7 linked regions of the Homo sapiens genome follow. Changing the gene in region 2 together with the main gene of any one other region gives a genetic interaction. Each region holds a gene or a part of one and is shown on either strand. Other genes may lie near its edges. The genes, in order: IGF1R, TRAPPC12, IGF2BP1, HDAC8, TRAPPC11, SLC39A9 and SEC24A.

Region 1 (3,500 bases), on a different chromosome or scaffold from region 2:
CGCTGGCAGATTTGGTGTCTGGTGAGGGCCCACTCCCTGGCTCATAGATGGCTGTCTTTTCATTGTGTCCTTGCATGGTGGCAGGGATGCGGGAGCACTCTCCGGGGCCTCTCATAGAAGGGCCTGGATTCCATTCATGAGGGCTTCACTCCCATGACCCAATCACCTCCCAAAGGCCATGCCTCCTAATTCCATCCCCTTAGGGGTTAGGATTTTGACATGTGAGTTTTGGTAGGGGACACAGGCATTCACTCTATAGCACTGATAAACATTCTTTGATAATAGCCATTATTTTAGTGGGTAAGGTGTTTTTAAATACCCATAAGCGAGCACAAAATCAGTTTAAATGGCAGAGAGGAGGGTGAGAAGAAAATGCTGGTGGGGAAAACCTTTTGCTGTGCACGCCTGCTCCTTCCTCCACTCCTACCCCATCTCCATGACCCTGTAAGTGGCCACAGTCATGTCACTGGGTAAAGTGCTTATTGAAACAAAATTGGCACAGGCTTCTGATCCTGCGTGTGGGTTGGTGTAGCAGAGGTTCAGTGCAACAGAAGAAGTTTTTCATCTTAAAATTTGGAAGTAACCCCTGGCCAGCAATTCACTGTAGTGTTTGGGAAACATAGGAATATCTGCTTATTGTGACAGATTCTCAAGAAACCTGTTTCCTTTCCACAAAGATGGAAACCAGGCACTGTACCAATGAGTCAGTTCACTACGTTTTGTCCTCTGTCCTTACACGCAGCGGAGACAGACGAGAACTTGGTCCTCTGCCTCTGCTGTTTGGTGACACCTATCGTAAGAATGTATCTAGGAATGAGCTGTTTGTTTTTGAAGTACTTATTTTTGGAAACCCTAAAGTGGCTGAGCATCAAGTGGTTGTGTTTTCTCTGAAAACGCCAGTATTAGTCATAACCTTTTTCCAAAGTATCATCCCTTAAAGATGTTCAGAACCTTGTGTGTATCGTATAACCTGGAGCACCCTCAAGCTGTCCGCCCTTTTCAAGTTTTAAAAATGGCTTAGGCAAACATATTGCTTAAGTGATATCCAGTGAAGGTGTCTCCTGTGCTTTGAAAAACCATCAACATTGATGCTTTTTTGTGACCCAATAAGGACAAGATTTCAGTGGTTCTGGGATGCATTTGATCTTTATGCACACTTCAGCTCTGGGTTTCAGTTCAGGGGTCAGCATAAGTAAAGCTTGATCAGATAACTATGCTTTGCCTATAATCGGCATTCATTCTGCTGGTGACAGAGTCCTTTGCTCAAAATGAGGCTTCCATGCGTTTGCAGTTCTAAACTGCTTTTCAGAGTCATGCCTCAGTCATTGTACTGAAGGATGCCTGTGGAAATGGTGGACTTCCGTGTTCTTTGCATTGCCTCTCCCCCATCCCTCTTACACACAGCTGTGACATGGGCATGCACACTCCTTCACACACACAGACTCTCCAGGCCCCTTTCCACTTCCTCTTTCCATTTGGCTTCATGACATTTTTATCAGAGATTCAAAATCTCAGATGAAATCCAAGTCAGCCTGTTTTACCAGTTGTCGAAATTGCCGGAGTGCAGCACTGTGGAGAATGGCAGTTGTAATAAATGAGAAATACCAGGTGTTTGAATTAGCTGTAGATTTTCACATTGTCTCTTCTAACCCTGCTTGTGCCCCCGCAGCCTTTTTCCATTTACAACTCAGTAATGTTTGTTTTCACAGAGATTACCGGAGGAAATAGATTATAAAGGGAAATGTTGGCATTTATAGTAGTACTATTTCAAAATAAGGTTCACTTTTCACTTTGTATTTCATTGTTCATTGTTATTTTCTTATCCAGGTCAAACTGGCAGTTTCCTGTTGGCTTGCCAGAGTATCTGATAGCCTGACTCTTAAGTTCATTTCATTTTCTAGAATGTTCTTTGTTCCCCTCTCCAGTTCCTTCCATTCCCTTGGACGTTCTTTCAGCATCGAACTCCTCTTCTCAGTTAATCGTGAAGTGGAACCCTCCCTCTCTGCCCAACGGCAACCTGAGTTACTACATTGTGCGCTGGCAGCGGCAGCCTCAGGACGGCTACCTTTACCGGCACAATTACTGCTCCAAAGGTAAGGGTGCAGCAGCGGCCTGGACGGAGGGTGTGACCGTTCATTCCTGTGGTTGTAATGTGCCTGAGCCCTAATATTACACGTATCAGACAACAGTGTAGTTCTCCATTGGAAACCAGCTATCTTCTGGTTTTTTTTTTTTTTTTTTGAGACAGAGTCTCACTCTGTTGCCCAGGCTGGAGTGCAGTGGCACGATCATGGCTCACTGCAATTTCTGCCTCCCAGGTTCAAGCATTTCTCATTCCCCAGCATTCCGAGTAGCTGGGATTACAGGCATGCACCACCATGCCCAGCTAATTTTTGTATTTTTAGTAGAGACGGGGTTTCACCATGTTGCCCAGGCTGGTCTGAAACTCCTAACCTCAGGTGATTTGCCCGCCTCGGCCTCCCAAAGTGCTGGGATTATAGCCTTGAGCCACCACATCTGGCCGAGACCAGCTATCTTCTTGATTAAAGGTACTGAGAGCTATTATTTTTCCTTACAAGCATGTATAACGGCTTTCATTCCCACTCTTGTTTTGGCTTTTCTTTTCCGAGAAGACAAAATCCCCATCAGGAAGTATGCCGACGGCACCATCGACATTGAGGAGGTCACAGAGAACCCCAAGACTGAGGTGTGTGGTGGGGAGAAAGGGCCTTGCTGCGCCTGCCCCAAAACTGAAGCCGAGAAGCAGGCCGAGAAGGAGGAGGCTGAATACCGCAAAGTCTTTGAGAATTTCCTGCACAACTCCATCTTCGTGCCCAGGTACCCAGCTCATGTGAAATTTCAGTTGGCAAAACCCACTGCTCAGGCCGGTTCTGTTGCCTTTCTCCCCACCAGGTAGTGTGTAAGTCAGCAGCTGGGGGGTACAATACAGTAGCCACTGAGACGGAGCCGAAAAAGATGACAGGTTCGGTGAAGTGAGTCCCTGCGGAAGCCAGTCAGCCCTGAAGGGAACAGGGACCAGGGCTTGGGTTGCTGGGGCCACCGGTGTGACAGGTACTGCTGTCTCAGCCACAACCCCCCACAGAGAGCAGGTGGGCACCCTGTGGTAGAGGCAGGGAGGGGAAACTCAAAGAGTATTGACAGCTGCTGCCTGGTGAGAGGAAAGGCCAGGATTTGGGTCCATCTCTGCCCTTCCTAATTATCTTTACTGCCTCTCTCAGCCTCACAGAGGAGGAGTGAAGCAAGAGGGAAAAAAGTCAGAGTCTGTGCTGGAAAGGGCCTGACTTCAAAACATAGCCAGGTGCCACAGGCATCCTGTACAAGTAAGTTTGGGAAGCAGTGTAGGGCGACAGCCTGCATTGGCTGTTTATTCCGTGGTTACTCTGTCTTTCAAAGCAACACAGCCCCTGCCCCAGGGACTCTGCTCCTCTGCTGTGGTCTTGGTTTCTGGGGAGTGGGGACAAAAGCAGAGGAAAGTAAAC
Region 2 (3,500 bases):
GAACTTCTTTGTTCTTCTTTCCACGAGAATTAAAACCTTAAGTTTCTCATTTTTAAAAATGGTCATTGGCCGGGCGTGATGGCTCACGCCTGTAATCTCAGCACTTTGGGAGGCCGAGGCAGGCAGATCACCGGAGGTCAGGAGCTCGAGACCAGCCTGGCCAACATGGCGAAACCCCATCTCTACTAAAAATACAAACTTTAGCCGGGCGTGGTGGCGGGCGCCTGTAGTCCCAGCTACTCAGGAGGTTGAGGCAAGAGAATCACTTGAACCCAGGAGGCGGAGATTGCAGCGAGTCGAGATCGTGCCACCGCACTCCAGCCTGGGCAATAGAGACTCTGTCTCAAAAAAAAAAAAAAAAAAAAACATTGTCATAGTGGCAGGCACAGTGGCTAATGCCTGTAATCCCATAATCCCAGCACTCTGGGAGGCTGAGGTGAGTAGATCACTTCAGCCCAGAAGTTCAAGACAAGCCTGGGCAACATGGGAAAACCATATCTCTACAAATACTCGCCTGCTTCTGCCACTCTGCACCATCAATATAAATAATAACTAATTCACAATAATCAGTCATGAAAGAATAAAATGGAAAACATGCCAAATGCAGGCCCCTGCTTTGTTATCACTGCATGCCATACACATAAAGTTCTCTGTCACGTGACTACAGGAGCATCTCCATTCCTGTGCCTCGTCCTCAGGTATCAGACGCAAGCCACTCGCGGGCTGAAGTCAGCCCACAGTCCTCCTTGAAGTCAACAGAAATGAACTACTGAGCCACGAGGGGCCTAGACCTGGGATCCGCCAGCGTTTTCTGTAAAAGACCATAGAATAAACATTGTAGACTTCCTGGCCATACAGTATCTGTCCAGCTCCTCAGCTCTGCTGTGAATGCCCAGCTCTTCCATGGTAGCACAGAACCTTATCACCGTGCAGGTGCACACGAGGCTGGGCTCTGGGTTCCTGTGAGCTCTGCCTACCAACTCAGGCAGTAGGGGGTGGGGGGCGTCCAAAGGATGTGCACAGATTGCCAGCACCAGGCCCAGCTGCTGGAACATCCTCATAGCTTTACTCACATCTACACGGACGCCTTAAGTTCACCCCATCAGTGCAGGGAGACAGGGGCCTTCAAATGTGATGACACGACACTGCTGTGGCCTGTGCTCTTGGAAGCCTGCAAAGGCCAGCACACCCGACCCTCCTCTGCCTCACCTCCTGTGCCACCCCATCCTCACCTGCTTCCCCAGCCTCTCCTCATCCACACCTGCTCGGCCCCTCCTCCACCGCCTCCCTCCGGCCCGCTGGTCCTTACTGCATCCCCTCGGGCCCTGCACCCTGCCCTCTGCTCCCTGTGCCCCCCATGCCTGCTCTCGCCTTGTTTTGCACACATTCTGTCCTCTTCTAGGGTCTCCGCCCCCTCCCCTTCCCTGATTAACTCCTGCCTGTCCTCACTGTAGGTCATGTCCTGAGGGAAGAGGGCCCCAGCCTTTCTAGCAGGAAAGGCCAGAGCCTTAGGCCTAGGGAACCAGGAAGGGAGCAGTTATTAGTTGCCCCTGGATACAGAATCTGCCTAGATGCATATATAGAACTGGTTCAGACTTGGCACAATCTCTTTCCCTCTCACTCTTTCACATTTGCAATTCAAAGAGAATATACAGAGCCATTTGTATTATATAAAGTGATTATTGCATTGAATTTAGACTAGAGAAGGCATTTGGAGATCGTTTTAGTAAATTATCGTAACCAATCTAAAAATACTTCTGAACTGTCAACCAGAACACAGAAATCCTGTATTACTTGCTGTAGTCTGGACAGTTTAGGGGAACGTGGCACCGATCTCATCTTCACCGTCGATCAGTGGTTCTCTGACTTGGTCCAGTGGCCGCACACCAGCTAGTGAAGAAAACCACAGACTCCAACTGCACTGTGTACGCTCTGGTGTCCTCATTTCCAAAAAAAAAAAAAAAAAATCTACAAGATAGAGTTTAAGAAATCTCATTTGAGTTGCCCTGCTAATATTTGCAGCTCGCTGGTGGGTGCCGTGGAGGCCAGTACTCACCGTCAGGCTGTGGCAGGTACAGTGAAAGGAAAAACTCCATGAGAGAACGGTGGAAAGTTCACCTGAGAGTGAAACGCATGCCAGTTAGAGTGGCTGAAAAATAGCATGGACAACACCAAGTGCCACGGGACGTGCAGCCGTGGGACCCCTCACTGCTAGGGAAGGCAAGATGGCACGGCCACTTAGGAAGACAGCTTGGCGGCCTCCTACAACACTAAACATACTCTTAGGTACAACCCAGCAATCCAGTTACTGCATTACGCTCCTGGATATTTCACCCAGTTATGCCGAATGCTTATATCCACACAAGAATCTGCCCAAAGATGTTGATACCAGCTTTATCCATAGTTGCCAAAAACTAGAGGCAACCAAGGGGTCCTTCGATAGGTCAGTGGGTAAACACACTGGTAATGTGGACAGTAGGATGTTCAGCATTTAAAAAAAAAACAACTATCAACCCCTCAGAAGACCTGGAGGAAACTGAGATGCCTGCAGCCCAGGGACGGCTGGTGGCTTGCAGCAGGTCACACGGCTACTCAGGCGTAGAGCCTGGCCTGTCTGAAGCTCAAGGCCCAGCACCCGTTCCTTTCCTTACACATAGAGTTTCACTAGGCACGCACACGCTGACTCTGGATTGATGAAGAAACAGTTTGGGAATTTTTAACAGCATCGTTCACATTTTTAATGCCTGCCTCCTGCCTGGCACTGTGCTCAGCACTTTCATGTATCTTCTTTAATTGTCACATCTGTGAGGTGGGACAGATGACCTCAGCTCTGTAAACTCAGCCATTGCTGAGCCTGCAGTGTGAGTGTGAGGCCACATGTCAGAACCCCGGAAGACACAAGCCCCACTCTCCTGCCTTCAACACAGCCCCCCACACCGCCGCTGTGGCTGGAATTGGAGCAGGTCGTTAGCTCCTGCCTGAGGAAGCCCAAATAAAGGACTGCAGAACAACTGTAGTGCAAAGCTGAGACTCATTGCCCTCCTAGGCGTTTCATGAGCAGGTCCTGAGTTCTCTGTGTCCCGGCGTGGAGTGCAGGAGGCGTGGAAAGGGAGTAGTGCGTGTGTGAGTTAGTATACAGAAGAAGTGTGTGGCAGGCTCTACCACACGTTTTTAAAATATGTAAACTCCTAAACTTCTTGTCAGAGAAGCGCTTGGCATGCACACAAAATCATTTAGCTAATTCTTGAGAAACATATTGTTTAATTGTCTGTCTCCCTTGCTAGATCATACCACTAATGAGTGCTCGTTCACTAACCTCCCCGCCAGCCTTGCAGTCTCTGTCAGGCAGGAGGTACTTAAAGCATGTTTATTGACTGGCTGCAGAAATGAGGACATCTACCGTATTCAAAGATAGTGCCCGTTACATTGAGAAAAGACAGAGTGAGCATCCACTTTTAGCTTCTTAAAAGGTTTAAACATTCTGATCTTATTTTCCCATT
Region 3 (3,500 bases), on a different chromosome or scaffold from region 2:
CTCAGGCTCAGGGAAGAATCTATGGCAAACTCAAGGAGGAGAACTTCTTTGGTCCCAAGGAGGAAGTGAAGCTGGAGACCCACATACGTGTGCCAGCATCAGCAGCTGGCCGGGTCATTGGCAAAGGTGGAAAAACGGTGAGCTGTGAGGGCCAGGTTGAAAGCCCTGGGCCTTGGTCTCCAATCTCAGCAGCTCTCTCTGGTCTCCTGTACTGCTCAACCTCAGGACTCCTGATTTGCTCATTTACTTGATTCTACTCCCCAAGCTCAGGTCCTGACTCTTCCAGGTTCTCCCCACTAGTCACCCTGGCTCCTCCCTCCAACCCCACCCATGCTTTCTTGATGGCACCCTGAGCTCCTCTCTGGCCACCCCCAGGTGAACGAGTTGCAGAATTTGACGGCAGCTGAGGTGGTAGTACCAAGAGACCAGACCCCTGATGAGAACGACCAGGTCATCGTGAAAATCATCGGACATTTCTATGCCAGTCAGGTACATATGGTGCTCCCCCATTGAGGGAGGGCTGCAGGAGCCCAGGGAGCAGAGAAGCAGAGACTCTATAGAGGTTGACCTTCATGACGTTGACAAGTCCTGGGGCCTCAGCCACATCTGCCTGCCTCTAGGCTAGGTTATTGCCCTCTTTCAGGTGCAGAAGTGGGATGTGTAGATGACATATTACCTCTTATTACTCTCTAGGAAAAGTGATTTGACAAGTTTAATGTACATATATTGTGTATAACATTATATATATAAATAACATATATATGAATATATATTATATGTAAATATATATATATATGTTCTACGTTAGTCCCTCCCTAACCCCTTTCTGCACTGGTTAAGAAAGAAGATTAGTTTTGTTCATGGAATAATGATAACAGTACTAACACCCTGGATTGATGGCATTTTTGAAATGTAGTCCCTCTGCCTTTCGCAGAATGGCTGTTCTCTCCCTGGTTTCTGCTCTTCCACCCTCCCATTCCTTTCCCAGAACTCATCATTGCCGTTCAGCACTCGGACAGGCTCCAGAGCATGGAAGGGAAGGCCAATATCAGGTTCAAATTTTGCTGAACCTCAGCAAGGCAAGCAAACAGGTGGTTGGCAGCTAATGGTGTTTTCCTAAAGTCTTAAATCCATCATTGTTAGAACTGGAAAGGAACTTTGGAGACTGTTGATCACAGTTCCTACAATTCATAGAAGATATCCAGATCTTAGCAGGCTTGTGGTCTGCTGGGGCTGCTAGAGCAATTGGGGCAAACTGGCTCTTGGTTTTTTGGCTTCCAGTGCCCATATAGTATAGCATCAAGTATGAAGGTTTTGGATCCAGGGAGCTTTGACCTCAAACTTCACATACATAGCCTTTCTGCTATGTGACCTTGGATAAGTAACTTTCTCTGATAACCCTTTGAGAAGTATTAACAAGAGGCTTTAGTTACATCTCAACTATATATATATATAAAATAACAAAAAAGTATTAATAAGAGCCATAATAATAATAATATCTAAGATTTATCGATGCCTTTGTATACCCAGCACTGTTTTATGTGGCTTATGTATATTAACTCATTTAATTCCCACAACAATTTCATTTTATAAATGAAGCTTAAGAGGGTAAATGTGAATCTTTAATTCAGCGTTTTTTTTTTAAAGAGAGTAAAGGATACCTCCAAAGATGCATAAAGCCAGGATATATTAATATTAAACACTGAAGCAATTTTAGCTGATCAGAATGAGAATTAAATGAAAAGCTATGTAAAACATCAAGCCAGGGTTGATGGAGTTGGACCTCTTATTGACTTACACATTATTTTCCCAACCTAGATCAACTTCCTCTTTTTTTTTTTTTTTTTGTGACAGGGTCTCGCTCTGCCATCCAGGCTGGAGGGCAGTGGTGTGACCACAGCTCACTGCAGCCTCTACCTCCCAGGCTCAAGTGATCCTCCCACCTCAGGCCCCCCAAGTAGCTGGGACTACAGGCAGGTACCACCACGCTCAGCTAATTTTTGTATTTTTTTGTAGTGATGAGGTTTCACCATGTGGCCCAGGCTGGTTTCAAACTCCTAGGCTCAAGTGATGTCACTGCTTCAGCCTCCCAAAGTGCTGGGATTACAGGCATGAGCCACAATGCCCAGCCTCAGCTGCTTCTTTAACCAGGAAAGGAAGCACTCATTTATGGAAAGGAGACATTCTGGTCTTCATTCTATGAAGTGAATCCCATTTTGCAGTTTATTTCCTTTATAAAACTTTATTCTTAGGGAAGAACCTTTTAAGAAGGAAATAATAAAAGATTGGGTATTTTGTCCATTTTTACAGTGAAGCTTATGTATTTATGCTTTTTGACTAACCCATATCTGGACTTTATTTTTTATTTTTACTTTTTTTTTTTTTTGAGATGGAGTCTCGCTGTGTTGTCCAGGGTGGAGTGCAGTGGCACAATCTTAGTTCACTGCAACTTCCGCCTCCCCTGTTCTAGTGATTCTCCTGCCTCAGCCACTCAAGTAGCTGGGATTACAGGCGCACGTCACCACGCTCGGCTAATTTTTGTATTTTTAATAAAGATGGGGTTTCACCGTGTTGGCCAGTCTGCTCTCGAACTCCTGACCTCAGGTGATTCACCCGCCTCAGCTCCCCAAAGCGCTAGGATTACAGGCATGAGCCACCGTGCACCTGGCCATATCTAGACATATTATTCCTTTTCCTGGGGTATTAAAATGAAGCGTGGATTTGTGATGATGTCTTCTAAGTTACGACCCTCTACAACAGGAGTCCCCAAACCCCGGGCCACGGACTGGTACCGGGCCACACAGCAGGAGGTGAGCGGCAGACGAGTGGGCATTACCTCCTGAGCCCCGCTTCCTGTCAGATCAGGGCGGCATTAGATTCTCATGGGAGGGCTAACCCTGTTGTGAAGTGCTCGAGGGATGCGCAGTGCATGTGAAGGATCTAGGTTGCACACTCCTTATGAGAATCTACTGCATGCTGATTTGAGGTTTCATCCTGAAACCACTTCCCCACCCCCACCTCCATCCGTGGAAGAAAAATTGTTTTCCATGAAACCAGTTCCTGGTGCCAGAACAGTTGGGGACCACTGCTCTGCAATATGTAATATATTTCTGCCTAGAAACTCTAGGCATTCTGTTTTGCGTTTGGTAATGTTTATCAACTTTGTCAAGTTTTAAATTCTGATGAATGGATTGATACTACTGTTTCTCCTTCCTTCAAGTCCCCCAACCCCATCTCCCACTTAACACCCACCACGTTTGCTGTATTTTCCAGGGGATACTCAGGCTCCACTGGAGGCAAAGAAATGTAAGGTCACCCCAACCCTCATTCTTCCTCTTTATCTTTCTTCTGAGTCCTGTGTGACCTGTTCTGTTTATTGCCTGTGTCTGGACCTGATGACCTCTCTTCCGTGGAAGGCTGTCTCCTTGGAGGTCTCACACCCACTCTCTTGCCTGTTCTTGCTGCAGATGGCTCAACGGAAGATCCGAGACATCCTGGCC
Region 4 (3,500 bases), on a different chromosome or scaffold from region 2:
GGGTGTCTACTAGTATAGTAAGCATAAGTGATCTGTTAACAGTCCATAAAAATCACCTGGAAAAAGAAACAGCTTTAATGTCATTCTTCTTGTTATTGTCACCTGAGGTGACCTGTGTTAAAATTTTGCACAGGACTGAGAAAAACAATCAATGGGGAAAGGATTCCCTATTTAATAAATGGTGCTGGGAAAACTGGCTAGCCATATGTAGAAAGCTGAAACTGGATCCCTTCCTTACACCTTATACAAAAATTAATTCAAGATGGATTAAAGACTTAAACGTTAGACCTAAAACCATAAAAACCCTAGAAGAAAACCTAGGCATCACCATTCAGGACATAGGCATGGGCAAGGACTTCATGTCTAAAACACCAAAAGCAATGGCAACAAAAGCCAAAATTGACAAATGGGATCTAATTAAACTAAAGAGCTTCTGTACAGCAAAAGAAACTACCATCAGAGTGAACAGGCAACCTATAGAATGGGAAAAAATTTTTGCAACCTACTCATCTGACAAAGGGCTAATATCCAGAATCTACAATGAACTCAAACAAATTTACAAGAAAAAAACAAACAACCCCATCAAAAAGTGGGCGAAGGACATGAACAGACTCTTCTCAAAAGAAGACATTTATGCAGCCAAAAAACACATGAAAAAACGCTCACCATCACTGGCCATCAGAGAAATGCAAATCAAAATCACAATGAGACACCATCTCACACCAGTTAGAATGGCGATCATTAAAAAGTCAGGAAACAACAGGTGCTGGAGAGGATGTGGACAAATAGGAACACTTTTACACTGTTGGTGGGACTGTAAACTAGATCAACCCTTGTGGAAGTCAGTGTGGCGATTCCTCAGGGATCTAGAACTAGAAATACCATTTGACCCAGCCATCCCATTACTGGGTATATACCCAAAGGACTATAAATCACGCTGCTATAAAGACACATGCATACGTATGTTTATTGCAGCACTATTCACAATAGCAAAGACTTGGAACCAACCCAAATGTCCAACAATGATAGACTGGATTAAGAAAATGTGGCACATATACACCATGGAATACTATGCAGCCATAAAAAAGGATGAGTTCATGTCCTTTGTAGGGACATGGATGAAATTGGAAATCATCATTCTCAGTAAACTATCGCGAGAACAGAAAACCAAACACCGCATATTCTCACTCATAGGTGGGAATTGAAAAATGAGAACACATGGACACAGGAAGGGGAACATCACACTCTGGGGACTGTTGCGGGGTGGGGGGAGGGGGGAGGGATAGCTTTAGGAGATATACCTAATGCTAAATGACGAGTTAATGGGTGCAGCACACCAGCATGGCACGTGTATACATATGTAACTAACCTGCACATTGTGCACATGTACCCTAAAACTTAAAGTATAATAAAAAAGAAATTTACAAAATTATCTCCTATCTGAATGAAAATGCAAAAAAAAAAATTTTGCATAGGATTGTGGCAGTAAGGCATTAACAGCATGGAACTGTCCAAGTATAAGAAATGTGTAGAAGAATTTCAGTATTTAGTCATCAAATGTAATACTGAGTTTATGATCACTTGCCTGGGAAAAATCCTGGGGAGAATTTGTGCAGGGACACGGTCATGACTTTGGAGGTGAAACTGAATGCGTCTTCTACACCTAACAGATAAAGAAACATCAAAAGAATCACTTCACATATGGCATTCCTATTTTCAACATCTGAAAATCTAGAAAGCAGCTGTGAGAAGGAGGGTAGATGAGAAGGCAGCAATATAAAACTAACAAGCTGAGGAATAAAAGTAATACGAACCTCTGGTCTCTAATCTCGTAATTACAAGATGAGGTAGAACTTTGGCCCCAAGTGAAGTTTGGGGGTTCCTTTTCAAACTCATGGAAAACTATAACTGGACTTCCCCTTTCCAAGCAATGGGATGTCTGGGCTCTCTTTGACAACCTGTTCTAAAAAGTAGGGAAAGGCGAGAGCCTAGAATTGAGGCATTATCAACAGAATTGAATAAGGGAAACTGGAACCATCTTACAAGTTGTATGTTTTGTCTTGTTTAAGTGGTTATAGTTAAAGTCTTGGGATTTTTTCCAAAGACGTACAACGTGATAACCCTTTGAAAAATATGACCAATAGAAACATTAGCCATTATATACCAAAAACCTAATTATAAAGTGCCTTTCTATAATGCAGATTTGGTTATAAATAAGTAACTTATAGTACATCTTTCTGGCTAAAACATGGAAGGCTGAAAACAGCCGTGACCTTGTCTCCTAATAGCAGCCTTATAAGAGTGTTTTAAAATCTGAAGAAAGATGGGCGAGAAAGGGGTCTGTTTTCCATTTTAACTTAGTGAGTAAACGATTAGAGGCCTGGGAGATAAAAGCTGGGATTTAAAGTAACCCTCACAAGCCTCTACGTATACAGGTAAACACACTGCCCACCTCCACCCCTTTCCTCTCAGAATCACATATAGTCACACTATGTTCAGATAATCAATCTGTAAAATGGGAGGACTATTAGCAAATTCAGGTACTGTCCTCTTTCTTACTTCAAACAAAGAAATTGTCTCTGTATTTATTTAATGTTTTCAGTCTTCACTACAGCCCCAACAGCGACTTTAAAAAAATATTAACTCTATTTATATATAACAGGTATGTTTGAATTTCCCAAGCCTTATGTTTGGCCCTAGGGAGGCAGTTAAATCCAGTTAAAGGCTCTAAGCAAAAAGCATGAAGTAAAAAAAATAAAACAAACAAAATAAATGAAAATAGTATTTCAACTTAGAAATGAAGTCTTAAACAAGGATAATTCATGAAAATCCTGATTATTGATCAATCCAGAAATGTTGTACCAATTTACACTTGGACCAATCATGTATGAGAGTTCCCAAACTATTGTTATTCTCTTTAATCTTAGGCAGAAAGAATGGTTTTGCTCTAATTTGCCTTTCTTTGAGTATTAGAGTGTTGAGCACCTTTTCATAAGTTTAGTGGCCATTTGTATTTCTTCTCATGGGAAATACCACTAGGCACAGTTATAAAATCATATTTAAAAAGGAGATGTACACAGATAGGAGGAAGCTATGGACTTGGTGGGAAAGAGGAGAGTAGTTAGGTAGATGAAAGAAGGCAAGGATGGGGTAGGGGTGGCTAGTGAAGCCACCACAGGATGCTAGTTATGTAATCATGGGAGATTTAAAATAAACCAAATGCATAAGTGTTGGGGGGTGGGGCAGGGGTCACTGTAAGGGAGGTGCTGAAGAGGGGAAATAAACTGAAATGAAACACACCATAAAAGTTGGCTAAAACAGGAAACTCTGAAGGGTGTAGAAATAACATTGCAAATGGAAAGAACACTTTCAGGTGACAGTTTCAGTTCATTCTTATGTGGTTCTGTAGAGTTGATTGTATTCTTAAACTCCGATACTAATAGTTTGAATTTCATAATCATTCATTGATCAAATATTTTAATGAGCCACTACTATATGCA
Region 5 (3,500 bases), on a different chromosome or scaffold from region 2:
AAATGCATCACAGCAATATGTCTTTGAAATAAACAAAGCCTATTGGATTTTAGATAATATTTTATTTGAGCAGTTTTACAAGAACAGAAGCTGGAATGGTGAAGAATATAAGTAGAATTTACCTGGAAATGGGCTACTTTTTTTTTTTTTTTTTTCTTTAGCAAAGTATTTGAGACCCTTGACATCATTAGACATGCATCATCGTTTTATGCATTCAGTTATGGGGCTGATAGAAACTCTTTGGCTTCAGTCATTCTTTAAATGGGAAGTATAGCTTCTCCAGGGTTGAGATTCCACCTTCAACACTTACTAGTTCTTACTGAATCTGTAAGCCTGAGTTTCCTAATCAAAAATGGGAGGTGTGTATATTGAATGAGATCAATGCACATAAAGTGCTTGGCACTCAGTAACAGGTGGTTTCTGCTCCTGTCAGGTAACTTTTCAATTTCTGCCAATGTTTGCAGAGAACTTCATATGAGTGGTACATTCCTAAAGGGATCTTAAAGACTGGCTGGATGAATAAGCATCTGAATCTGGTGCCAGCCCTGGTGGTTGTGTTCTATGAACTGGACTGGGATGAGCCTCAGTGGAAAGAAAAGCAGTCTGAGTGCGCCACCAGAGTGGAAATAGTCAGGTATGATCTTCTGTGTCAGGGCAGCTATGTCAGTTTGCACATGTGTGTTATTCACTAACATTCCTTGAAGGCAATGGAGTACCGTTCAGACTGCAGTGGTCACTTTGCGGATTGACCTCCAGTGAATCTTGTTCACTTCCTCACAGGTAGCATAATTATTGACTGTATATAATGCTGGGTACGTGAAGAAATTTAGAAGACTAATTGGTCTGAATTTCCAAATGTTTTTCTTGTATTATCTTTTTTGGAGACATAGTAATTTACTGTTTAGTCTCTTAAAACGCTTTGCTTTATCACTGTTTAAGTTTCAAATAATTAATTCTTTTGGATGACTACTCTGCAGTGTATCACCATAAAGAAGTAAGTTGCATTATAACTTTTACGTAAAAGTATACATTAATCTTTTGCTTTTAAGGAAGATTTTTAAGATTAGAAGATGTGAGATCATACTTTTAGAATTTAAATCATTGTGACATATATGTGCTTTGTGTGCAGGAAAAGATTTCTTCTGATCTTGGTTTTTTTAGTTGAAATTTATCTTCGGTTGAATGACCAAGGTTGTATTTTATGTGAAGTCATGAATACATTTTTTAAGTTAAAATAATTAATTTTATTCTTGCTTTTTCATTGCAGGCAAAGTTTACAAGGAAGAAACACAAAAGTTGCAGTGGTTCTGATTCAGAAGAAAACCCCTTTGCCCCCAGGTATCAGAAGTCTAATTAATGAATTAATTGTTTTATACCTCCAATTCTTATTAAAGGGAGATAGGGGTTTTTTGGATGTTTAAATCTTTTATGCATTCAGTTATGGGGCTGATAGTATGTTAACTTTAAAAAGCACCAATGATACATGAACAAATGCTTATTGTAAAAAATTAAAGATAGTGAAGAATGCAAATCTCAAGTTCCCCTAGTTCCCCTGTTCCACTTGTCTTCTTATGTAGGGGATATAGGAAGGCATGTTCAATTCACAAAACAATTCGCTTGAATTTTTTTACAAGAGTATAATTTTTTTTGACTTCCAAAGCTTTCCAAAAAAGAATATAATTTACTTATCTAAGATCTATTTGAAGCTGTATTCCTTATATGAAATTTTTTCATTAATTTTCTGTAGGGCAAAGAAAAAGGCTATAGGATTTGTAGTTTTCTCTTGGAAAATGTCTTAGTTTCAGATTCTTATTTCCACTTTCCCAGACTTTTGTAGACCAAAATATATTTTTGTTTCTGTGTTGAAACTTATAGCATCCAAAATGGTTTTGGAGACTTCTTTCATGAATTATTGCTTCCAGTTTTAGTTATGTTTTTTGAAATAGTTATGTGGTATATCTGTTGGCATTACTTGGCCACCTATCCTGGCTCAGTAGAAAATTCCACAGTGTTTTCCTAAAAGGCATATACTGTGTAACCTCTAAGAACCACACAGAGCTCTCAAGGAGCCCAGGAGTCCTGTTGGTGTGATGAAAAGCTGTTTGGGTTTTTATTCCTAATTCTATTTTTTCAGACTTGGGGAAATATTTATTTGGGAAGCTACATTAGTTATTTTATTTCTCATTCATCTTGATGGGGATTATCAACAGGAGAAGATGTCATTGCTTCAGAAAGGGCTGCAGCTTTATGCAATGCATGTGAACTCTCAGGAAAGTCTTTGTTTGTACTGCCGCACACTGACCACCTTGTGGGTTATATTATAAGGTAAGTAGAGGTCTTTTAAAGTTTTGTTTTTTTAGATTATTAAGAATTGAGAAATTGGTAGCTTAGACCCATTTATTTTTTTAAAAAATCATGTTCATGAAAAACATTCATATGATACAGAGGCTATGGGGTAAAAATAAAAGTCTTTTTTGTTAAATTCTTAACCCTCTCCAATTCCCTGAGGTAACCAGTATCAACAGTTGCTCAAGTTTCCTTCCAAAAAAAGTCTTTTTGTATAAGAACAAATATATGTATTTCTTTATAGTATCCATACCACACACACAAACACAAAAACATAAATGTGCTCATATGATACACAGTGATCTTCCACTTAACATTACCTCATTAACATGCTTCCATATGTGCATCTAGGTCAACTTTATTTAAAGAAACAAAGTTTATATGTTTCTCCATTATACTTTCCAGTAATTACCCATGTCCTTGAGTGACATGTATGTCCTTTTTTGTGAGAGTGTCTCCATTCCACTCTGGCCTGTTTTTGCTTCATTCTTGAGCTGTCGATGTATCTATGTCACTAATTTCTTAGGAAGGTGTGAGCCCTATCATATCTTAAATATTTTTATAAAGCCTTTGTGTATAAAGGGCAGATTACCTGGAGACACAACATTACCTCAAAAATCATGTGGTCATTATTCATTGTTTTGTAGCATTTATTGTCACACAGAAGTTTTGTAGTAGTACATTTTATGCTAGGATGTATTTAGATATGAATATTTTCATTGATTTTGACTGTAAAATGGTTTTCCTTTTCATTCTGCATAAGTGTCCTTCGTTAACTCATGAACAGTTTTATTTATTTTTGAGTATTGCTTCTCTTGCATTTGTTTCTTTCTCAGAAGCAAACCTCTGAAAATGATCCGCTGCAGGAGGTTACCTGGCCTTCTCACTGGTATATAAAAGACCAGGCTTCTAAGAAAGAGAAGCATACATTTAGCAGAGAACATGCAGAGGAATAGGATCAAATGAAAAGATGAATTGCAAAGAAACTTAAATGCAATTAGCAAAATAAATCTTTACACTGGAAGCAGTAAACAGTAGAATTCACACCACAGAAAATCAAGTCCATGGTGCCCAGGGTAACATTGAGATAATTGCTTAGAATTCAGAGGAAAAGAATAAATGAGTTTTATTCCTTAAATGCAGACATATGAGCA
Region 6 (3,500 bases), on a different chromosome or scaffold from region 2:
CAACCAAACCATATCAGTGTCTGATTATAATAACTGACTCATTCATAATAAGTATCTTTAGGGGTTTGAGTTACCCGCAAATCAAAGGTTTATTGTGTCTGAAGAACAGATTTATTCAGTATGCTTCTGCCTCTACAATAGGTTCTCTTTGAAGTAGATTTAACAATGTTACATTTTTAAGGACTTTTATATTGTCTGGTACATTGCTCTTACCCTCTTATGGTAATACAAGAGATTTTATACCTGTTTGGAATTTCATTTGTAAATTCTAAGATTTGAGCCGGGCATGGTGGCTTATACCTGTAATCCCAGTGCTTTAGGAGGCTGAAGCTGGAAGTTTGCTTGAGGCCAGGAGTTTGAGACCAACCTGGGCAACAAGTGAGACCCTGTCTCAGATGAATGAACGTAAATTATAAAATTTTAAACTTTGCAATCTCAGTAAATTTATCCATATCTGGAAAGAAATCATCAGCTTGTCTTTTCTCAGATTGAACTACAGATTATTGTTTCATAAGGATCCTTGATAAAACTAAGTTTGGATCAAATAAAATCCGGTTGCAATATGATTCAATATTATTTTCCTGAAAAACTTTGTTTTCTCCAGGATACTATATTGATAAACATAATTAAGACTTATCTGCATAATAATATTAATAATGTTTATTGAGCTCTTTCTGTATACCAGGCAATGATATGCACTATCTTATTAATCCTCAGGACCAAGACTATGAGATACTGTTAAACCTCACTTTACAAATGAGCAAACTCAGGCTTGAAGAGGTCACAGACTCTGGTAGAGGTGTGATTTGGAACTAAGTCATTTTGATTCCTGTTGCCAAATCAGTCACTTGACTACTAAATGTTGCCTTTCCTAATGAATGCTGTGTAAAGAAGGAATGAAAATAGGATCTACCTAAATTGATGCCTTTAGCTCCCCAAATTAGGAACATCTTTCATACCTTCCACAGTATATCTCATGCTTTCTGCCTAGTCAGTGGAGTAGAACTTGAAACTCCAGAGGTAAACAGTCTCCAAATACCATTGAAACCTATAAGAAATAAGTTAATATGTCTTAGATGCCTTTTAAATTAACACCTGCCAATTTGGAATCTGAAGTAGTTCCTATTGTGAACTATCCAAGATGAATTTCACACTTGACATCCTCACAGGTTAGTCGTAAATTGTGCTGTTCAAGAAGTGACATCCTTTTCAAGAGAAGATGACATGAAATGGATTCAGAATGTTTCTGTATATGATAGTCTTAACCTCTCCTCTAATTAAAGAATTTAATGATGAGACTTTTGTTGAATGATAAGATCCCCTTCAGCTCAGTATGGAATTCCACACTGGGCTGAGCGCAGTGGCTCACGCCTGTAATCCCAGCTACTCGGGAGGCTGAGGCAGGAGAATTGCTTGAACCTTGGAGTCGGAGATTGCAGTGAGCTGAGATTGTACCATGGCACTCCAGCCTGGGCAACAGAGCGAGACTGTCTTAAAAAAAAAAAAAAAAAGTAGTAGTACTAAGTATGAGTACTGGTATTTCTTAAAACCTATAATGAAATTACAGAAATCTCAGTCTTCCTTGAATACTAATATTCAGTTTTTAACTTATTGAAATAAAATGGAAATAAATATTAGTTAGACTGGAAATTCTTTGTTTTTTTTTTTTTTTTTTTTGAGATGGAGTCTTGCTCTGTCGCCCAGGCTGGAGTGCAGTGGCGTGATCTCAGCTCACTGCAACCTCCCCTTCCCAGGTTCAAGCAATTCTCCTGCCTCAGCCCCCCCAGTAGATGGGATTACAGGTGCGTGCCACCATAACCAGCTAATTTTTTGTATTTTTAGTAGAGACAAGGTTTCACCATGTTAGCCAGGATGATCTGGATCTCCTGGCCTTGAGATCTGCCTGCCTCGGCCTCCCAAAGTTCTGGGATTACAGGCATGAGCCACCACACCCAGCCCTGGAAATTCTTACATGGAAATTCATTTTTAAATGAAAAGGTCTTGAGGGTAACTAATAGATAATTACATCAAACTATCTATTGCAAACCCTGTATTTATCTGACGTTAATTTCCTTCCTTCCTTTCTTTCCTTTCCTTCCTTCCCTTCCTTCCCTTCCTTCCTTCCTTCCTTCCTTCCTTTCTTCCTTCCTTTCTTCTTTCCTTCCTTCCAAATTTCACTCTTGTTGCCCAGGCTGGACTGCAATGGCATGATCTTGACTCACCATAACCTCCGCCTCCCAGGTTCAAGTGATTCTCCTGCCTCAGCCTCCCAAGTAGCTGGGATTACAGGCATGCACCACCACGCCCCACTAATTTTGTATTTTTAGTTAGAGACAGGGTTTCTCCATGTTGGTCTCAAACTCCTTACCTCAGGTGGTCTGCCCGCCTAGGCCTCCCAAAGTGCTGGGATTACAGGCGTGAGCCACTGCGCCCGGCCAATTTTCTTTCTTTTTTTTTTTATTTTGAGACAGAATTTTGCTGTTGTTGCCCAGGCTGGAGTGCAATGGCACGATCTCGGCTCACTGCAACCTCCTCCTCTCAGGTTCAAGAGATTTTCCTGCCTCAGCCTCCCAAGTAGCTGGGATTACAGGCGCCTGCCACCATGCCTGGCTAGTTTTGTAGTTTTAGTAGAGACAGGGTTTTTCCGTGTTGGTCAGGCTAGTCTTGAACTCCCGACCTCAGGTGAATCCGGCCTCCCAAAGTGCTGGGATTACAGGCATGAGCCACCGCACCCGGCCCTGCTATTATATTCTTTACGGTTCTCTCTTAGTCAATTCCTCATCATTCTAGTCCCCTTTTATGCTTTTATAGGTATTCCTTTTTTCTTTCTTTCTTATTTTGAGATGGAGTCTTGCTCTGTTGCCCAGGCAGGAGTGCAGTGGTATGATCTTGGCTCACCACAACCTCTCTCTTTGGGTTCAAGTGATTCTCCTGCCTCAGCCTCCCAAGTAGCTGAGATTACGGCTGCCTACCAACACGCCCGGCTAATTTTTGTATTTTTGGTAGAGACAGGGTTTTGCCATGTTGGCCAGGCTGTTCTCAAACTCCTGACCTCAGTTGATCAGCCCGCCTTGGCCTCCGGAAGTGCTGGGATTACAGGTATGAGCCACCATGCCCAGCCCCCTTTTGTAGGTATTCTTTATGTTAAACTTTCTCTCTTCAAATTACTTTATGCTTTCTCTTTGATGAAAGGACCCTGACTGATAGAGGTAGGTAATGGATCATAAAATCAAATAAGGCTGAACAGAGAATTAAGCCTGGAGTAAAATAAGACAGCCCCAGTGTCATGATATATGGCAGCTGACCTTCAGTGTCAGTGCCTGGGAGTCATTAGGGAGAAGTGAGAACTGTGGGCATCTAAAGGGCACATATCATTTGATGACACCAAATCTTCCTATTTTTCCAAAGCTAGAAATCTGGATTTTTATATGAAGTCTCCTGAATTTTATCCTTTGGCTACTTATTCAAATATTGTATCAGTGCGTGGGCCAAACAACCCA
Region 7 (3,500 bases), on a different chromosome or scaffold from region 2:
TCATCTGCATTCATTCTTGCCTCTAACTTTCTAATTTAGCTTCTTTACCCACACATCCCAAAATTGTCCTTAATAAGGCCACAAGGCTGGGCGTGGTGGCTCATGCCTGTAATCCCAGCACTTTGGGAGGTCAAGGCGGGTGGATCACAAGGTCCGGAGTTCAAGACCAGCCTGGCCAACATGGTGAAACCTTGTCTCTACTAAAAATACAAAAATTAGCCGGGTGTGGTGGCGTGCGCCTGTAATCCCAGCTACTCAGGAGGCCTCAGCCTCCTGAGTGATTCTCAGCAGGAGAATCACTTGAACCCGAGAGGTGGAGGTTGCAGTGAGCCGAGATCATGACATTGCACTGCAGCCTGGGCGACAGAGCAAGAATTCATCTCAAAATAAATAAATAAATAAATAAGGCCACAAATGGCTTCCTGGTTATTAAATAGAAAAATATTTTTCAGTTCTCATTTTCCGAGCTGCATTTGATACCTTTGGCTGTTATTTTGTTTTTACAACAATTGCTTTCTTTGGTTTCTAGGATATCACCAGAAGGGTAGTTATGGTTTTCTTTCTTTTTTTTGGTTGCTATTTCTCAACAGCAGTATTCTCAATATTTCTTCCATTTCTGATTGTTTTTTTCTCTCTCCTCCTTAAATATTGGTGTTCTTCAAGGTGACCTATTTTTCTTACTCTTATATACTCCCTGGGTGTCTTTAATTCCCATGGTTTTAAATCTTATGCATAGATCAGTGACTCCCATAATTATATCTTAAGGTGAAATCTGTCACTTTGGCTGCAGCTAAATATCTTTTTTTTTTTTTTTTTAAGACAGAGTCTTGCTCTGTTGCCCAGGCTGGAGTGAGGTGGCACGATCTTGGCTCACTGCAACCTTTGCCTCCTGGGTTCAAGCGATTCTCCTTTCTCAGCCTCCGGAGTAGCTGGGACCACCGGCATGTGCCACCACACCCGGCAAATTTTTTGTATTTTTAGAAGAGATGGGGTTTCACCGTCTTAGGATGGTGTTGCTCTCCTGACCTCATGATCTGCCCGCCTTGACCTCCCAAAGTGCTGGGATTACAGGCCTGAGCCACCGCGCCCAGCGCAGATAAATATCTTTATACTGGACATCTCCACTTAGATTTCTTGGTGGCACCTGAAAATTAGTGTGTTTAAAATAACTCTTCGATCTCTCTTCCCTTTGCCATTCCCCACCTTTGTTTTTTTGAGACAGAGTCTTGCTCTGTCAACCAGGCTGGAGTGCAGTGGCACGATATCCGCTCATTGCAACCTCCGCCTCCCAGGTTCAAGCAATTCTCCTGCCTCAGCCTCTGAGTAGCTGGGACTATAGGCGTGTGCCACCATGCCCGGCTAATTTTTGTATTTTAGTAGAGACGGGGTTTCACCGTGTTGGTCAGGCTGGTCTCGAACTTCTGACTTCAGGTGATCCACCCACCTCGGCCTCCCAAAGTGTTGGGATTACAGGCATGAGCCACTGCATCCGACTTTTTTTTTTTTTTTTTTTTTAAAGACAGCTCTCATTCTGTCGCCCTGGCCGGAATGCAATGATGCAATGATAGCTCACTGCAGCCTTGAACTCCTGGGCTCAAGTAATCCTTGATCCTTGATCAAGTGGGTGGAGTGGCTCATGCTTGTAATCTTAGTACTTTGGGAGGTCGAGTCAAGAAGATCCCTTGAGCCCAGGAGTTCGAGACCAGCCTGGACAACTTAGGGAGACCCCATCTCTACAAAAAAATTTAAAAATTAGCCAGGCATAATGGTGCACGCCTGTAGGCCCAGCTACTCAAGAGGGGAGGTGGGAGGATCGCTTGAGCTTGGGAGGTCGAGGCTGCGGTGAGCTGTGACACTTCAGCCTGGGTGGCAGAGCGAGACCTCATTTCTGAAAAACGCACACACACACACACACACACACACACACACAACCAAAACTTATATTTTGTAGAGATAGGGACTTGCTATTGCCCAGGCTGGTCTCAAACTCCTGGCCTCAAGTGATCCTCCCACCTTGACTTTCTAAAGTGCTGGGATTGCAGGCATGAGCCACCGTGCCTGGCCTACATTTCTATTCTTTTCTCTTTCTGTTCAAATGAATAAACACGGCCATCCACCAGGTTGCTCAGGTCAGAAACCTAGGAGTCATCCTAGATTTTTTCCTCTCTTCATCACCCATATTCAATTCCACATAAAATCCCATGAATGCTGTTTCCTCAAATCAGTTTTTAAAAATTTGAGTAATGTATAGATACTAAATATTTCTCTGCTGTCCCAATGTTAAATTATTTATTTATTTATTTTACTTCTGACACAGGTTCTCACTCTGTTGCCCAGGCTAGAGTGCAGGGGCATGATCACAGCCCACTGCAGGCTTGATCTCTTGGGTTCAAGTGATCCTCCCGCCTCAGCCTCCCAAGTAGCTGGGAATATAGGCACGTGCCACCACAACTGGCTAATTATTTATTTTTTTGTAGAGACGAGGTCTCACTATATTACCCAGGTTATTCTTGAACTCCTGAGGTCAAGCCGTGCTCCCACCTTGGCTTTTCAAAGTGCTCGGATTACAAGATCAAGCCAACATGCCTGGCAAAAATTATTTTTATTAAATGTGTATATGCAAACACAAAACTAGATGTAAACTTCATAGGGTTATAGCTATTGTACTATTGTAAAACCAAACATTAAAAATATCAACATATGGCTGGGCATGGTGGCTCACGCCTGTAATCCCAGCACTTTGGGAGGCTGAGGTGGCCAGATCACTTGAGGTCAGAAGTTCAAGAACAGCCTGGCCAACATGGTGAAATCCCGTCTCTACTAAAAATACAAAATTAGCCAGCGTGGTGGTGCACACCTGTAATCCTAGCTACTCGAGAGGCTGAATGAGGCAGGAGAATCGCCTGAACCCAGGAGGCGGAGGTTGCAGTGAGCCGAGATCGCACCACTGCACTTTAGCTTGGGCAACAGAGCGAGACTCTGTCTCAAAAAAAAATCAAAAGCAATATAATTCAATTTTAAAACATTAAACAATATGCTACATTTTGTTTGAAACCACAGTTGATTTGATTGTTTTAATTTTGAATATGTTGGAACATTACTTGGGTGACTATCATGCTCACTTTTTCCTTTTTGTTTTTGAGACACGTTCTCACTCTGTAGCCCAGGGTGGAATGCCTAATTATAGCTCACTGAAGTCAAACTCCTGGGCTCAAGCAGTCCTCTTGCCTCAGCCTCCTGAGAAGCTAGATCTACAGGCATGTGCCACAACTCCTGGCTAATTTTTTAATTTTTAATTTTTTTGTGTGGAAATGGAGTCTCGCTGTGTTGCCCAGGCTGGTCTCCTACTCCTGAGCTCAAGTAGTTCTGCTTTGGCCTCCCAGTGTGATGGGATTACAGGCATGAGCCACCATGCCCAACCTCTACACGATTTTAATAGGGGAAGAATGGGGTGGGGGAGAGGACATTTACTGGAAAACAGACGACTTATAGGAAGGATA

The links.
Region 1: changes in TRAPPC12 (region 2) and IGF1R together harm fitness more than expected from each alone (negative genetic interaction), as found in Homo sapiens cells (one large-scale study listed by BioGRID).
Region 3: changes in TRAPPC12 (region 2) and IGF2BP1 together harm fitness more than expected from each alone (negative genetic interaction), as found in Homo sapiens cells (one large-scale study listed by BioGRID).
Region 4: changes in TRAPPC12 (region 2) and HDAC8 together harm fitness less than expected from each alone (positive genetic interaction), as found in Homo sapiens cells (one large-scale study listed by BioGRID).
Region 5: changes in TRAPPC12 (region 2) and TRAPPC11 together harm fitness less than expected from each alone (positive genetic interaction), as found in Homo sapiens cells (one large-scale study listed by BioGRID).
Region 6: changes in TRAPPC12 (region 2) and SLC39A9 together harm fitness more than expected from each alone (negative genetic interaction), as found in Homo sapiens cells (one large-scale study listed by BioGRID).
Region 7: changes in TRAPPC12 (region 2) and SEC24A together harm fitness more than expected from each alone (negative genetic interaction), as found in Homo sapiens cells (one large-scale study listed by BioGRID).

What each region holds. Positions count from the first base shown.
Region 1 is NC_000015.10:98,914,039-98,917,538, forward strand, and holds part of IGF1R (insulin-like growth factor 1 receptor isoform 1 precursor), read left to right. Parts: intron 1-1,925; coding exon 1,926-2,093; intron 2,094-2,633; coding exon 2,634-2,838; intron 2,839-3,500. UniProt on the Homo sapiens protein: Receptor tyrosine kinase which mediates actions of insulin-like growth factor 1 (IGF1). Binds IGF1 with high affinity and IGF2 and insulin (INS) with a lower affinity. The activated IGF1R is involved in cell growth and survival control.
Region 2 is NC_000002.12:3,417,694-3,421,193, forward strand, and holds part of TRAPPC12 (trafficking protein particle complex subunit 12), read left to right. Parts: intron 1-3,500. UniProt on the Homo sapiens protein: Component of the TRAPP complex, which is involved in endoplasmic reticulum to Golgi apparatus trafficking at a very early stage.
Region 3 is NC_000017.11:49,045,885-49,049,384, forward strand, and holds part of IGF2BP1 (insulin-like growth factor 2 mRNA-binding protein 1), read left to right. Parts: intron 1-5; coding exon 6-137; intron 138-375; coding exon 376-489; intron 490-3,467; coding exon 3,468-3,500. UniProt on the Homo sapiens protein: RNA-binding factor that recruits target transcripts to cytoplasmic protein-RNA complexes (mRNPs). This transcript 'caging' into mRNPs allows mRNA transport and transient storage.
Region 4 is NC_000023.11:72,489,344-72,492,843, forward strand, and holds part of HDAC8 (histone deacetylase 8), read right to left. Parts: intron 1,664-3,500; coding exon 1,586-1,663; intron 1-1,585. UniProt on the Homo sapiens protein: Histone deacetylase that catalyzes the deacetylation of lysine residues on the N-terminal part of the core histones (H2A, H2B, H3 and H4).
Region 5 is NC_000004.12:183,665,793-183,669,292, forward strand, and holds part of TRAPPC11 (trafficking protein particle complex subunit 11), read left to right. Parts: intron 1-464; coding exon 465-634; intron 635-1,267; coding exon 1,268-1,338; intron 1,339-2,210; coding exon 2,211-2,325; intron 2,326-3,500. UniProt on the Homo sapiens protein: Involved in endoplasmic reticulum to Golgi apparatus trafficking at a very early stage.
Region 6 is NC_000014.9:69,405,192-69,408,691, forward strand, and holds part of SLC39A9 (zinc transporter ZIP9), read left to right. Parts: intron 1-3,500. UniProt on the Homo sapiens protein: Transports zinc ions across cell and organelle membranes into the cytoplasm and regulates intracellular zinc homeostasis. Participates in the zinc ions efflux out of the secretory compartments.
Region 7 is NC_000005.10:134,655,285-134,658,784, forward strand, and holds part of SEC24A (protein transport protein Sec24A), read left to right. Parts: intron 1-3,500. UniProt on the Homo sapiens protein: Component of the coat protein complex II (COPII) which promotes the formation of transport vesicles from the endoplasmic reticulum (ER).